Regions from separate parts of the Homo sapiens genome. Here region 2 is linked to region 1. Evidence: fine-mapped expression QTL. Tissue or cell type: hippocampus. Region 1 holds a variant in brackets; the other region holds the start of a gene. All regions are shown on one strand. Distances are from middle to middle.

Region 1 (8,155 bases):
GAGGTAGAATTGGCAAGCCTGGGATATCCCTTTGCTTTAATATAGCCTTTATTTCTGTTAAGTGATTACTCGAAGTTGGCTTGATTTCTACCCAACCCTAGTCTAAGTTACCATTTATTCTCACCTGTACTCCTGAAAAACCATCCTAACTGGCTTCTAATACCTGCCTTGGAACTTCTCTCCCACACAGTAGCCAAAGGATCTTTTTGAAGTGAAAATGTACTCATCTTTCCCCTGCTTAAAGCCTTTCAATGTCTTCCCAGTGTTCCTAGGATAAGGATAAAATTACTTAATGCAGATAAGTTCAGACTCTTTTGATTATAAGTAACAAGCAACCTAATTCAAGCTGACTTAAGCAAAAAAAGGAAATGTTATCGGGTAATTCTATCTAATAAGGCTTAGTAGACACAGGACTTTAAAAGATTTAATAAAGATATGCTTCCTCTCTCTACTTATTAACTCTTTTATGTTGATTCTTTTCAAATGAGATCTTTTCCTGTGGCTATAACACAACTACCAGCAACTCTGATTTGTGTGCTGTGGGAATAAACCCTTACCCCAGCAGTCTCAATCCAAGCCCTGCCATTCACTTTGATTGGACTAACTTAGGTCATGTGTTCTTCCCTGAACCAGTACTATGGCTATGGGAATAGGATATACTTAGGGGTCAAGGGCTGGATCACATGCTTTACCTAGATTCTGCCTCACAACAAACCACGTGGGCTGAGACTGGGGAAAGCACAGACTCTAGCAACAAATCTGGGGCTTTAAGAAGAGTAAATGTGTTGGGGGGACTACAGATCTTCTCTACTGTATATATGGCTTTACATCGACTATTCCCTGTCTATTCCTCCTGCTTCATCTAGCACAACATTTTGCTTCCTGCAATCCAGCCACACTGGTCTTTGCATCAGATAACTATTTCTGCATAACAAACAGCTCCCATACTAAATGCCTTAAAACCATAACTATTTACTGTGTCTCATCATGGATCAGCTTGGTGCTTTTGCTGATTGAAATTGGGCTTGATTATGCTCAGCCTCTCTCTGCATCTGTGATCAGGTCAGCAGAGGGCTGCTAGAACAGCCTTGGCTGGGATGACACAGTTCTTCTCCATGTAGTCTCTCATCCTTCAGTAGGTTAGTTCAGGTTTGTTTTCATAGTGGATTCAGGGGCTCAAGATAGCAAGCAGCAGTGTTCAATGTGTTTTGAGGCATATGTTTAGAACTGGCACTTCCACCACAAGCAACTCACATGGCCAAATTCAGGGTCATTATGGGAGGATACTAACACATTTCAAGACCAATGTAACCTTTTATTTATGGGCATTATTGATGGAGAATTAATGAAGCTCATGCACATGCTAATTTATTTATTGAATAAACATTTATTGAGGAACAATGACATACCAGTATGTATGAATGTAATCATGAATAAATGCAAAGGAGTGGAATCTAGAAAAAGAATGTTTGCTGAGAAAAACTAAGCAAATGAATACACTCATTGGAAAACTATTAATATGTGTGTTTTTTAAAAGAACAAAGAGAACCCCTCACAGAGATTTCTAAAATATGCTTTTATAGATATAAGCTATTGAGGAGGAGGTTGAATCAGTGTCAAAATGAAAAATTAAACCTGTTGAAATATGAAGAATATTAGAACTTGCAAAAAGAGAAATACGATTCAATGTAAATGATTCCGTCTGCTGCAGTAAAAATATTTATACGTTTCTCCATTCTACAAGTACTTCCATATTTCTAAAATGATGACCCTTTCCTTTTGAATAGGCTCAAGCCTTATGTGGAAGCCAGCTACAGAATTATAAGAAGTTTCAAAATGTATTGAGGGACTGCAGGATGATCACTCTTTGGGTAAAGAGGGGAGGCAATAAACTTCAGATGTTCATGGCTCTGTGGTCCTAATACTGGTAGCCTCTGAGGCTGGGGAGACTTAAAGCTAGCTGGGAGAAGGAAACTATTCATCAGTTACCCCTGTGGCAGCAAAGTTGCAATAAGGGTGGCAATTATTCACTCTTCCCTCTATCCATGCCCTTTGTATGTTACTTTACAGTTCCCTCACAATGTGAGCAGCTCAACCCTCAAGGGGTTAAGGAACCTAAACCTCAAGTCCCAAGATTCTAAAATTGGTGTTCTCACTGAATTCAAGTATTAAATGATACAATTTGAAAGGAAGTGAACTTGATCCTTAAAACCAGAATTCAAGTTCTGACTGTAAAATAACCACATTACTTTGGATAGTTCCCTTAATTTCTCTAACTTTAGCCTTTCCAATTCTAAAATGGATATGATCATGCTTGCGTCAGGCATCTTATGATAATTAGTGTCACACAAGACATATGTCTAAAGCAAAACATATGTGTTGTGGGTTGAATTGTCTTCCCCCAAAAGATACTGAAGTCCCCTCTACCTGTGATTGTGACCTCCTTGGAAATAGGGTTATTGCAGATGTAATCAAATTAAGATTAGGTGGGCCCTAATGCAATGACTGGTATGCTTATAAGCAGGAGATTCAGACACACACAGGGAGAAGGCCATGTGATGATGGGGCCAGGGATTGGAGTGATGTAGCTACAAGCCAAGACTTGCTAAGATACACTGGTGAACTACAGACGCTAGGAAGAGGTAAGGACAGATTCTTCCTTAGAAACTTCAGAGGAAGCATGGTTCTCCTGACACTGATTTTGGACTCCCAGCTTCCTGCATTTTAGACTTCTGACTATGAGAAAATGAATTTCTATGGTTTCAAGCCACTCAGTTTTTAGTACTTTGTTGTGGCAGCCCTAGGAATCTAATACAATGTGTATATTAGATACTATGCTAAATTACAGATTTTACAAAGAAGAAGTCAACTTGTTTGTGGGTATATGTGAGTCACCTTTGGGGACCCTAGAATACTGAGGGGGTAAAATGGTTTTTAGCGTTCTGATTTCTCGCAGGTAAAGTAACTAAGCTTGTGAAATTTGAATATTAATGTTAATGTGAACTCAATTTTATCCCCAGAAGAGTAAAGCATAGGGGATTTCTAGTTACTTAATGGAACAATAATATGTAAAAATATTTAATAATTACTCATATCTATCAAATCCCAAGTACTGTTTGCAGCATTTTTATGTATTAACTCATTTAAACCTCTCAGAAACACAGTGAAGTACTGGATTACTCAGGGTTTAACCAGGTCTAATGAGGAAAACCCTACTTCAAGTATTTAAATAGAAGAGAGTTAATGCAAGAAATTATCTAACAGGGATAAAACAGATGGGAAGCCAACAAGTGATGCTGAAGCAGCTTAGATGAGCAGCACCAGGAAGCTGCTGTCACCCCTAGGGTGGCAGGACAAAGGGAAGTAGCATGTTGCAGGTCAGAGCTGGGTGTCACCTGGTTTAGTTTAGAACCCTGGTGGGCCTACCCCAAGAGAGCTGTGGAGAAAGTACAGTTACTGCAGGAGAGCCTGCTCAAGGAGGAGAGGGACCCCTGAACTTTTTCCTTCCCCCCACCCTCCATTCTCCCATTAGTGCCACCCATTGGCTGATCCCAGTGGAAGCCAGTTGATATGTGACCCTGAGAAATGCAGTTTATACCCTTTTCAGCTTGTATCATAGGGGAGGCACTCCTATGATACAGAGCCGGAAAGGGCGTAAACAGTTCCAGGATCAATTAGGTATGTACTGCTATTACCCCCATTTTTGAGATGAAAAAACTGAGGAATAGATGGGTAAAGTAGCATACCAAAGGTCACTCAGCTGGAGCTGAGATTTAAACCCAGGCACTCTTCCCCCTGCCCACAGTACAACTATACTGTATTCAGGGAAAGACTGGAGGCAGGGAGCGCAGTGTAGGGATTATTATGATCACCCACGGGGCAGGAATTAGGACCAGGAGTAGGTTGGTATCTATGAAATTGAATAAACGAGATTTCTTTGAGAAATATTACAGAGAAATGAATGATTTGTTTAAGAAAATGAGAAAGGAAATGGCTTTTGACCATAGGAAAATATTTGAAAAGGGAGACGATTTATTTTAAC[C/T]GCAACAGTATTCAATTTCTAGTCAGAAAGTAAGTGAGGCAGTATGATGAGATAAAAAGTCCAATATTCATTATAACAAATTTTACCACTGCAAAATAATTTGAGATGTTTCTGAAAGCCTGCATGTCTCTTTTGTGAAACTTCCAAAAGTTGTTTCTCTTTTATGGCTTCCTTTTATCATCTGCCTTAAGACATAAGCTGGTTATGCTATTCTCAATAAATAGCAGTATTCTAAGATAATTATTTTCTTGGCAACCTGGAACCAGGAGCATAAGATGACAGTAGTAAAATTAGAACTGTTGCTTCTTGCACAATTTACTTTCTAGTCTAGGAGTCTTAGAATAAAATAAGAAATAGTTAATTAACTGGACTAGGAAAAACTGTTGCATTTTTCTTTTTTTAATGATTTGTTAGCTAAGTTTAATTAAGAAAATCAACAAGTCTGCTAGAAACTGATAATTACTTGAATAATGGGTGATACAAATCTTTTCTAAAAATGTAAGTTGCAAAAGAGGAAAAACCATCTAAAGGAAGCCTAAATGTTCTTTCTAATGAATGTGGCATATGGGAGAGATTGAATATACAGATTAAGTAGAGAGTGAGCAGTTATTTCAATGTAACCAAAACAAATGGCAATCTGGGTGATTCAGATAACTCTGAATTCTCTTTTACTTCAATAGCTGCATTTTCACATTGACCTGAATTATCCATATGATTGCTTTCGCTGTCTCCTTTTCTCTGCCTGTGCAGATAAACATAGGGTGTGATGACTTCCATCTCATGTAGGTGAGCTAAAGCAAAACTATCCAGTAAATGCTAGTTGAGTAGATCTGAGCTTTTCTTTAGCATTAGATATTATTTAAGGACTACCTTCCTTCCCTGTGTCAGTAATGGAGTATGAAAGGGATACTAGCCCTTGGTTTCAGGCAATAAAAATTATGCTGGTTTAGGGGTGTCTGCATAGTTTGAATTATAAACATACCTGTCAGTGTAATTTATTCAGGCACAGTTTGGACAATCACTGGTCCAGGGCCATTGTAAAAAAATGGTTTTAAGTTAAAGATCTAGTTGGATTAATTAATTGAAGTTCCATTCAATTCTGTGATTATATGAACACATAAAATCTCAAACATTTGTCTTTCCATGCATGATTGAGTCTTGGAATAAAAGCAGTCATTTGATGGCTTTAGCTTCTGTGGGGAGTGATCAATAAAGTGATTCTGAAAAAACAGATGCTTGTGTCCATTTTGTCCCATTCTATTGTGGCTCCCTTTATGTATATTTGGATGACAATTCTAGCAATGGAGCTCTTTCTCTGACACAAATCATGGAATTCACATAAGAGTGCAGAGTTTTGATTGCTAAGGGAAGTGGATTTTACTGTGACCAGCATTTACAGTCCCAGAACATCTGCAGAGCTGCTCAGGAACATGATAATGAAGCAGAACATCTGCAGAGCTGCTCAGGAACATGATAATGAAGCAGAACATCTGCAGAGCTGCTCAGGAACATGATAATGAAGCAGAACATCTGCAGAGCTGCTCAGGAACATGATAATGCATCAGAACATCTGCAGAGCTGCTCAGGAACATGATAATGAGGGAGAACATCTGCAGAGCTGCTCAGGAACATGATAATGAGGGAGAACATCTGCAGAGCTGCTCATGAACATGATAATGGACCAGAACATCTGCAGAGCTGCTCAGGAAGATGACAATGGAGCAGAACATCTGCAGAACCACTCAGGAACATGATAATGGAGCAGAACATCTGCAGAACCACTCAGGAACATGATAATGGAGCAGAACATCTGCAGAGCCGCTCAGGAACATGATAATGGAGCAGAACATCTGCAGAGCTGCTCAGGAATATGATAATGGATCAGAACATCTGCAGAGCTGCTCAGGAACATGATAATGGATCAGAACATCTTCAGAGCTGCTCAGGAACATGATAATGGAGCAGAACATCTGCAGAGCTGCTCAGGAACATGATAATAGATCAGAACATCTGCAGAGCTGCTCAGGAACATGATAATGGAGCCCAGTGAATAATGTTCAACATTTTGAAAAAGTTGAAGTGAATTTAAAAATAAGAAACTTAAAATTCCAAATATCCAATTGAAAGTTGTTTGTGTCTATGACTAATAAATACTGAGAAATCCAAACTTAAGTGCAGTATAAGTGGATAAAAAATTTTAAAATATGGGATTTGCGGGACAAAATATGTATGTAATATTAAAGGAGTTTGACTCCCTGATCTTGTCCAACCCTTTGTTTTTCTTGGGGGCAACAATAGAGGTCAGAGTAGAAAGCGGCTTACCTAAGGTCATAGAGATGTGTGGTAGTAGTGCTAGTATCAGACATGAAATCTAGAGATTTCTAGTGAGCAAAGACCAGAACTCACATGTTAACAACTTTCTGAAAGAGAATCTAGGAATCAAATCTAGGAAGCTTTTTCATCCTCAGTGGCATCTGGATTTACCCAGGACATTTTTATCCATGAAAATATTCTGTTATAAATATTTTCAAAATCATCTCTTCTAAAAGTTACAAAAAACAGGTGCATTTTACACTTGGCAAAACTGTGTGTATATTCCTTTGTTTATGTCTACCTTTTACAGATAAAGCTTTCAGTGAATAAAGCTTTCAGAAGCCACGAAGACAATACAAAGCCAATTATCTCTTATTGTGAAACTGTAAAGATGAAAAAGAGAACACAGAAAATAACTCTAAAGCTCCAAATTGAAGAAGTGAAGAATTGAGGTTAAGTATCTACATAATGAGGTTTATTGAAACTCTATAATTAAAGATAAGCAGATAATTTAGATGCACTTAAATATTATTGAGGTATTATATTTCATCTAATTTAAGAAACTATATTCGTTAGGGTCCAGATATGAAAAGATAAACCACGCCAGGTATTTCAAATAGAGACAATTTGATACAGGGAACTGGTTATGCAGGACGCTGTTCCTACCTAGATATGGTAAATGGACGCTGAGGCTACCTAGATATGGTAACTGCTGATACCATGATAAAGAATAAAAATAGGTTCACTGACCTAGGAGCTTGGCCCTGTGAGTCTGGTGTTTGAACCTCTAAGGGGGTTACAATGTGGCTGACATGGGCATGGCTGGCCATCTCTCTAGGGGCACACTGTATGGCTGGATCCAGAACTGCCAAAAGAATCCGAAGGCTGTAACTGCAGCTGTCCTCTGTTATTTGAGCAAAGCTGATAGGAACTGGAAACAAAAAAAAGTTGTTTCTCCTCTCTTCCCACCTTCCAGTGTCCCTGTTAGAGACAGGATACAGTGAGAAGCTGGCCACCTGCAAGCCAAGGAGAGAGGCCCCAGGAGAAACCAACCCTGCCAGCAACTTGATCTTGAACTTCCAGCCTCCAGAACCATGAGAAAATCAATTTCTGTTGTTTAAGCAATTCAGTCAGTGATATTTTCCTATGGCAGGCCTAGCAACCTAACGCAAGCAGAAAATCATTTTAAATAGCATTTAAAGTCAGCCCCTAGAGGACCAACAATTCACACAGCTCCTCAAAGGGCCAACTGTGAACATCTGTGACCAAAATTTACACCTGTGCCAGCAATCAGAACTACATCATAATTGTAGCCTGTCCAACTATAAGATATAGCTCAATTTCTGAGATGTAAACAGGAAAAAAAAGTCTGCATTTTGAACTTCATGAGATACAGTCATTCCCTCAGTTTTTCACCTTTCAGGTGCCACAATTTCTTGTCAGGTCTATTTCTTAGAGGTCTGTTTTCAGTGGTCTTTGTTTTTATAAACATTTAATATTTAGTGAGTTCTAAACGTGTGTTTAAAAGAATTTAGGAGCTACTTTCTTTATGTAGTCATTGACTTGGGAATACAAATAAGAGAAAATGGGTAATTTGGTATTGAATTGCAAATTAAAAGCAACCTATGTAGGTAAAATTTTAATACACAAATCGAGAAGCCTCTTACCACAGAATAATTTAGTCTATGCAAGCAAATGGAATCCTAATGGTGCCAAGTGAGGAGGAGCTGTGGCTGAGGGAGGAAATAAGTGTGAAGGCCCAATTCATGGATTGATTCAACTTCTGTTTGGGCAGAAAGA
Region 2 (8,083 bases), 290 kb before region 1:
AGCCTCCCAAGTAGCTAGGATTACAGGGGTGCACCACCACTCCTGGCTAATTTTGCATTTTTTAAGTAGAGACAGGGTTTCACCATGTCGACCAGGCTGGTCTCGAACTCTCGACCTCAGGTGATCCACCCGCCTCAGCCTCCCAAAGTGCTGGGGATTACAGGCGTGAGCCACCGCACCTGGCCCAAGACATATTCTTGACACAGACAGTATGGCAATAAAAGGAAGACATAAATTTCTTTTACCATAATTAAGATTTTGAATAGTACACTTGGGACAAGTAACCAGCACATGAAAAGTTTTGGTTTGAGATTTTTAATTACTTTGATAAATCAGAATTGTTTAAAAAAAATTAAAAGAATGTAAGGTTAAGCTAATCATAGTATTATATTCAAAAGACCCTCAGAACATAGTTTAGGATGATAAGTTTCATACCTGACACCAACTGCCTTAAAGTGATAGTGACTTCTTTAAGTACTATGTTAAGGAGGATTCTGAGGCAGTATCTGGGATCCATAGGAAGATGTACTTCCATAAGAAGCCACCTGCCCTGGGGTATGATATGGTGAGTAGGCAAATGCTAGCAAATGACTTATCAACTTTGTCCTATCTACACATGTTCTCTAGGTATTCTGACGTAAAAACAAAACCAAAAACCAAATATTTTAATTTTATAAGTTTTAACAAATTTTGCATTTGTTTTTCACCAGTCAATTGCCTATTGGCCAAAGTGTCATAAATACTAAATGAATGTTTTTAAACTTTTCCCTAATTTCAAAAATCATGTTTATTACAGAATATTCAGAGACAAATGCTCTATTTTTTTTGCTATTCAAAATGTCCACAGATTGGTGCTAATCTACAAATTATTTGTTACCCATACACAAGTAGTACAGAAATTTTTTCTTTGTTTGTTTACAAGTGCATAAAAATGAAGCAAGAAGTAGAGAAATTGAATGTTCGGTATACAGCAATTTGATATTGCCATGAAATTTTCAGTGTATTTTACAAAAGTTATAGGTCCATAAGGGATTGGAAATTAAAACAAAAACATTGTTCTTTACTATATGTAATTTGAGAATCACAGATGGTTGTGAAATACAAAGAAAATTTTATTCTCAACTCTTTATTCTGTGTATTAGATTAGGGTTTCTCAGTCTCAGCACCATTAACATGTGGGGCCTTTTCTCAGTGGAGTTTCCTTGTGCACTGCAGAACATTCGCATTCCTGGCTTCCATGCTACACTGTCTCACAAGTGAGCCTCTCTTTCTTATCACTTAAGAAAACTGAACTATAAAATAATCCTACATTTATCAAAGCTAGTTTTCGATAAATGGGGCATCTTTTCCTGACACTCAATGTATTTCACAGGGTGATAAACATGTCAGTACCACCAGGATGATATATCCTACTGGTTCAAAACTGCTTGAGCTATTTTAATCTATTCTTTTCCTCACAGCTTTCAGATCTCTACATGCTGGGTCTTTCTCTGGGCTAATTTTCTAGTTTCTTCCTGCTTTCACAATTGTTTAAAAATTCTTATAAAATACACATCAGTTCTCATATAGTTTTTGTTTTGTTTTTTAAAAAACAAAGTGTTGCTCTGTCACCCCGGCTAGAGTGCAATGACGCCATCAAAGCTCATTGCTGCTTAGAACTCCTGGGCTCAACAATCCTCTGCCTCAGCCTCTGAAGTAGCTAGGACTACAGGTGAGCCACCACGCCTGGCTATTTTTTTTTTTTATTAAGAGATGGGGTCTCACTGTGTTGCCCCGGCTGCAATCCTTCTACCTGGGGTGTCCTAAAGCCCTGGTACTACAGGTTGGAGCCACTTCGACTGGCCTTTGTTATTTTGATATATGTTGTTACCATTTAACTATTGATATACAATATAGATTTTCCTCTTTAGTTTCTAGTGAGCATTTTTTTTTTCTTTTTTGAGAAAGGTCTCACTTCGCCATCAAAGCTAGAATGCAGTGGCATGATTATGGGCTCAAGCCATCCTCCCACCTCTGCCCTCCAAGTAGCTGGGACTACAGGTGTCTGCCACCACGCTTGGCTAATTTTTTAATTTTTTTGTAGAGACGGGGTTTAGCCATGTTGCCCAGGCTGGTCTCAAACTCCTAAGCTCAAGCAATCCGCCCACCTTGGCCTCCCACAGTGCTGGGGTTACAGGTGTGAGCCACCGTGCCCAGTGAGCAATTTTATTTTTATATCATCTCTGGACCTCACATTAATCTATTTTTCTCAGTAAAAGTATACTGCAAACAGGCTCCAGCAATGACAGTCACATCCAGTTCCTCAAATTCTTTTTCTTATTAAGTATGTTGAGTAAACTGACCGTGGTTTTGTGTATAGACTGATACCAAAGGCCTGACCCTAAAGCCCTCAAAGACTTAGAGGGCTGTAGGGACATTAGACTTCAAACCCATCATATCCTCTTTCCTATCCTTGGAAAAGCAACGCACAAAGACTTTCTTAAACTCTTAATTTCTCAGCATTATTCCAGTGTGTCCACTATCCTTTGCGCTCATTGTCACACCCCTCATCTTTCAGAATCTTGAAGCTGTGAGGCGGAGGTTGCAGTGAGTCAAGATCGCGCCACTGCACTCCAGCCTCATCAACAAGAGCAAACTCCGTCTCAAAAACGAAAATCAGCAACGAGCCATTAGTAAACATTCATAATGAAGATTATGATGCTAAATGTCATTATTTGCATGCAAAGGTTTCCCCCTCATACTAAACCTCAGCATTTTGGGTTTCACTAGATTTAAAGCAGAAGTGAGGCTTCATTACAAGGCCACCTCTCTTTTCTGACTAGTGGGGTTTTAAATAGCCTGGTGGCTTTCCAGGTGGTAAGTCTCAGCTAATGGGCTCTGGAGAACCCAGCCTATCAGTTCATTTATGGAGTCCCTTGGCATCCTTGTACTGTGAAGAGCTGTAAGGCCTCAAAGAGTAAAAAAGGTGAGTTGAGAAGGTGTCACAGAGCACGAAGGTGGTCCCCACACAGGTCACAATTATGTAGCTGTGAACAGGCCACATGTTGCATCTTTCATAGCATCTGCCACAAAATAAGGGCTCAATATATTTTCCCTTCAATTTACTTTAAAAATCATTACCATTGCCTAAATGAAATATTACTGACATGGATTTTAAAAACTGCACATGTAACTAATGTCTAAAATTGGGTCACGTGAAACCTATAACCTTGAAACTGAGAATTTCCTTTTAGACTTCATGACAATATACCAAACACTTAATGCACCAGGGGCTGAGGGGAACAGAGAACCTAATTAATCACGGTGACCTGATAAATGAGGTAACACCCCTAAAGCAAGTGGCTCTCCTTTAACCTCAGTTCCATTTCCCTACCCCCCCACACCATGTCCCTTCAGATCATTTGATCTGAAGAGTTGAGGTGGGTACTTATTCAAAATGAATAATCAAACTTGCCTCCCAATTCCCAAAATCTGCAAGGTCCCTTAGACCTCTAGAAGTGCAATTTTGCTGACAGGAGAATGAAGGAAATTACTCTCATCCAAGGCGATTACCTCCACGAATTCTTAAAGGGTTATGTTACATAGTAGAATCCAGGTATTAATATAAAAACTGTAACTTCAAAATACTATAATGTTTCAATCAACAAAAGTGGGCAGAAAAAAAATTAAAAATTTTAAAACCCACCACTTCAGAAGCATTATGCTTTAGTACTCGGATAGTCTCAACATGGGAAGAAAACATCACTTTGTCAGTGAGTAACTTCTGATAAGTATGTGGAAATGTAAGCCACTCCGCTCGAAAAATGCACGCAGGGGGAATGACACGCGCGGTGCGGTTACCGTTGTGTCCCGATATCTGAGGCCGTTAAACGACGAGAAGAGCGGCAGTGTCTGAAGCACGCCTTCCTACCTCTCCTCCGCCCGGCCCCGCTTCCGGGACTCCAGTTCACCCGCAGCACCCTGACTGCAGGTGCCAAGTCACAACTGCAAAGAAACTTCCTTTTCTCGAGCGGGGGTGGGACTTGGCCGGGTCCCGAGGCCCCTGGCCGGCGGGCTCGGACGTTAGGAGCAGAACCAGCTCCAGGTCCCGGTCTGTCCGGGCGTCGCTGCCCTCTGAAGCTCAGGCCGGACGCCCCAGTCCCTGGCCGAACAAGGTGCCGCGGCCCACCCACCCCGGTACCCGCCGTCCGACCCCGTTGCCCTGCACCTGAGGATGTTGTCAGCATAGGTGAGCAGCAGCTTGGAGGCCTCCAAAAAGGTCTCCGGGGTGTTCTGGCAGAGCTCAGCCACGGCCGGGGACGCCGAGCCTGAGGAGCTGCCCAATGCCGCCGCCGCCATGCTTGAGCGCCAGCGGGCGCCGCCGCCGCCCCTCGCTCTCCGCGTCCCACACTGAGCAGGCGCCTCAGCGCGCAGCAGCTACCGCAGCCACCGGCAGGGGCGGGGTCCTCGGCCGGCAGGGGCGGGGTCCTCGGCCGGCAGGGGCGGGGTCCTCGGCCGGCAGGGGCGGGGTCCTCGGCCGGCAGGGGCGGGGTCTTCGGCCGGCAGGGGCGGGGTCGGGGGCCTGGGGCGGGGTCGGGGACCGGGGCCAGGAGCGGGGGAGCTCGGCTGGGAGCTACGGCTGCCCCTTCGCGGGGGGCAAGGGGCTGTTCGGAAGAAGGTGGGGGGCCTCGGCCGGCAGGGGCGAGGTGCTTCGACCCAGAGTTGGGGCCTGGTCGTACAGGTTGGGAAGGGGTTCCGCAGGGAGAGGCGGGGCCTGGGCTCCGGGGCTGAGGGGTGTGGGCCTGGAGGAGGGGGATGTCGAGTCCTTTAGGACGGAGGAGCTCGGCTGGAGGGGAGGCCGGCTTTGGTCTAGAGGTATCGGGCGAATGGTGCTGGCACGTGCCTCTCAGAAACCCGGATCCCTTTGCGCTCCGGGGCCAGCCTAATTGATCCAGCTATTAAGGTGGAGAAACCGCATGTACCTCCCTCCTTTCCCCACAAATAAAACCACCTTAGAGCCTTCTCTTCGCAGATTGTCAGGACGTTCTACATAGATGTGGATGAAAGACTACAGAAGGAAGGAGCAACAAACGTCAAAAACAAAACCATGGCTATAAACTCTGCTGGGTTTGTTATATGGATTCTTTTCAGAATTTGGCTAATGACTGAAAATCTAAGTTCCAGCTCAACTAGTATATGATTCCTCTGTAAGGAAGTGTATTTTTAAACCATAGGTTGCGACATAATAATGGGTTGTGGATTCGGTTTACCGCGTGGTGACCAGCGTAAAACACATGCATAATAATTACGCAATATTATAGAATGTCGGGGGCGGGAAGGGAATAAAAATTTGCATCCCACACAGTAAGGGTAAGTAATATTTTGTGACTTGTTTTTTAGGTAGATCATGTGATCAAGGTCTTTTATTCCTCTTAGAAGATGCATCCCTTACTACTTTAATCCAGTCTCTTCCCCACCATGTTCTTGAAAGTGTACTTTACCAGTGGCTTCCTTCTTTGCAGAAATTCCTTTTCAACCTCACGAAGTATTTTTCTTGACTTTATTTCTTAAGATAAGTGATTTGCCTGAATAACCTCTTTTAAATTTCTTGATGTTTCATCTGTTTACTTTTAAGAATTGAAATTTTCTTCCAGAATCTCCGAACAAGACCCTAAGCTATGACATCCAGTTCAATGACTATTCGTCTCCCAAATATACGTACGCTTTTAATAAATATGTAAATCTTTGGACCACCTTCCAAGTATGGTGTGTTCAACAGATAGTAGTATGTTACTACCGTCTGTAACTAAAATTTTCAGGGGCTTAACACAAGAGTAATTTCTTTCTGGCTCATATAACACTTTAATAATGCAGGTGTCATAATGTCAGTGGACCCAGTCTCCTTCCATACCTTAGAACAGGGGTCAAGAAACATTTTCTGTAAAGGGCCACATAGTGTTTTAGGCTTTGTGAGCCATAAGGTCTGTCTCAACTATTTAACTCTGCCTCTGCAGCTGTTGCTCCACAGACAATACTTGAAAATAAATGGGCATGGTTATGTTCTAGTGAAATTTTATTTACAAATCCAGGCAGCCTGCTTGGACAAAAAAAAAAAAAAAAAAAAAAAAGTCACACCTACTTTTAACCACATGAGCCCAGAAATGACACACAGCATTTTCTCTACCATATCATTACTAAGAATGAGGCCTCATCAAGATAAAAGGGGGTATTTCAGTAAGGCCAGATTTACAAAAAATAAAAAAAAAATTTAAAAACACATAAAAAGATAAAAGGGGAGAGTCTGGGAAATGTAGTCTCGTCCAACTACACAATGGATTGGGGGCTTGGGTCTGGAGATATAGCTATCACAAACTTTATTCCTCTTAATTTGGGTTTCTTTTTCCATTGATACATTTATTTATCCTTTACTAATTATATGAGAATAGTATATATTATACAGTACTTGTAACTTTTAAAAATGCAACAGAACTTTTTTTTTTTTTTCAAATAAAATTTTAGGGGCTGGACATGGTGGCTCACGCCTGTAATCCCAATACTTTGGGAGGCCGAGGTAGGTGGATCGCTTGAGCCCAGGAGTTCAAGACCAGCCTGGGCAACATGGCAAGACCCCATCTCTACAAAAAAAAAACAAAAACAAAAACATAGGAAGATTGTCTATATACAAAACACCAAAGTGGAAATGCTCTGGTATTGAAGCAGAGGTGTCAAGTGAAGGGCAGAAAGCTGTCAGCTAAGGCTTTCCCCTGACAGATAGAATGGTCATAGGGTACTTTTGTGGGGGAACAAAATGACTTTTGTTTTTCTCTTCATAATAGTTTGTTTCCTCAACTAAAACGCTATCTCACTGTAAGTTATCATTAGTTTTGTCTTCCCTATTTGATTAAAAGTCTCTTGTGCCATCTGTCTCAGACTGCTTTGCACACAGCAGGTACTGAATAGAGTTGTTGGTTAATCACTCAATGTAGTCACACAATAGTGAATCACTATACAAATTCCTGAAAGACTTCAACTCCTCCCCTTGCTAATGGTTTTTATGGAGGTTAACTTTTTAATATCACCAAACCAATCGTGGGGAAAATTTACAGAGTTCTTTCTTTTTTGTTTTATTAAAGAATAGTGTTAGCCAGGCGTGTTAGTGCACACCTGGAGTCCCAGCTACTTGGGAGGCTGAGAGGCAGGAGAATCGCTTGAACCCAGGAGGCAGAGGTTGCAGTGAGCTGAGGTTGCCCTACTGCACTCCAGCCTGGGTGACAGAGCGGGACTCTACCTCAAAAAAAAAAAAGAATAGCGCCATGATATGTCAACTCTAAAAATGATGTTTTTAATAAAGGTGAAATCCTGGGGAAAAAAAAAATCTTTATTTTGGAACAAAAATAAATAAATAAAAGAACAAGAATTTCAATGCTGATTTAGTACCCATTCTTTGGTTGTTTGAAACAACGATGGGTATAAAAGTTAGGGTAGCTTATTCAGCTTTTCTAAAGGAAATGGAAGAATTAGAATATCTCCAACTTGACTGAAGTGGGGGAAGCAGCCAGGAAAATGAGAGACCAAGTCCCTTTATATAATGGATTCCCTTAATAGCTTTATAAATGGCAATATTCAAAAGAGATTACAGTTACTCAAGAACTTTAACAGAAGTGTTGCTAAAGAGTTATTTGGAAGGACTTAAATTTCAGATGATTTTTTTAAAATGGTGATTTCCATGATTTTATGGACTGTACATTGTTATCACAATATTAATGCTATGGCATTGGTTTTCGCAAAAGTCATTTGGTGAGAAATGCACAAAAAGTGCATGTGTACTATCAAATGTAAGGATAAATGTTGATTTATTCATTCCATAATTCATTCATTCATCATGTATTTATGAAGTGACTACTAGTTGCTCAGCACTGTGAAGGAGACAAGTATGGTCCCTACTTTCATAGAAGTCATAAGTTTAGAGCAGTGGTTGGACAAGCAACAGCAGCATCAGCAGGAAACTTGTCAGAAAAACAAATTCTGAAGCTCCACATTTAAAGGTGGGACCCAGCAATCTGTGTGGTAACAAGCCCTTCAGGTGATTTTGATTAACAGTAAA

The links. PIP is the estimated chance that this variant, and not a neighbour inherited with it, causes the effect.
Region 2: it holds the start of NGLY1, and the variant in region 1 is fine-mapped to the expression of NGLY1 in hippocampus (GTEx, PIP above 0.99). The same link has a PIP of 0.9 or more in pituitary and unexposed skin.

The regions. Positions count from the first base shown.
Region 1 is chr3:26,073,924-26,082,078 of GRCh38, forward strand. It overlaps LOC105377001 (a long non-coding RNA gene), which reads left to right. Exons shown (of 3, transcript XR_940662.2): 3 at 6,666-6,799. Among named protein-coding and RNA genes, the nearest start is that of LINC00692, 200 kb to the left of the region's middle. The variant C/T (reference allele first, on the strand shown) is at 4,043.
Region 2 is chr3:25,779,053-25,787,135 of GRCh38, forward strand. NGLY1 (N-glycanase 1) reads right to left here and starts at 4,391. Exons shown (of 12, transcript NM_018297.4): 1 at 4,208-4,391. The coding sequence starts at 4,338. RefSeq lists enhancers at 2,184-2,353, 3,741-3,820, 3,981-4,030 and a silencer at 4,341-4,580.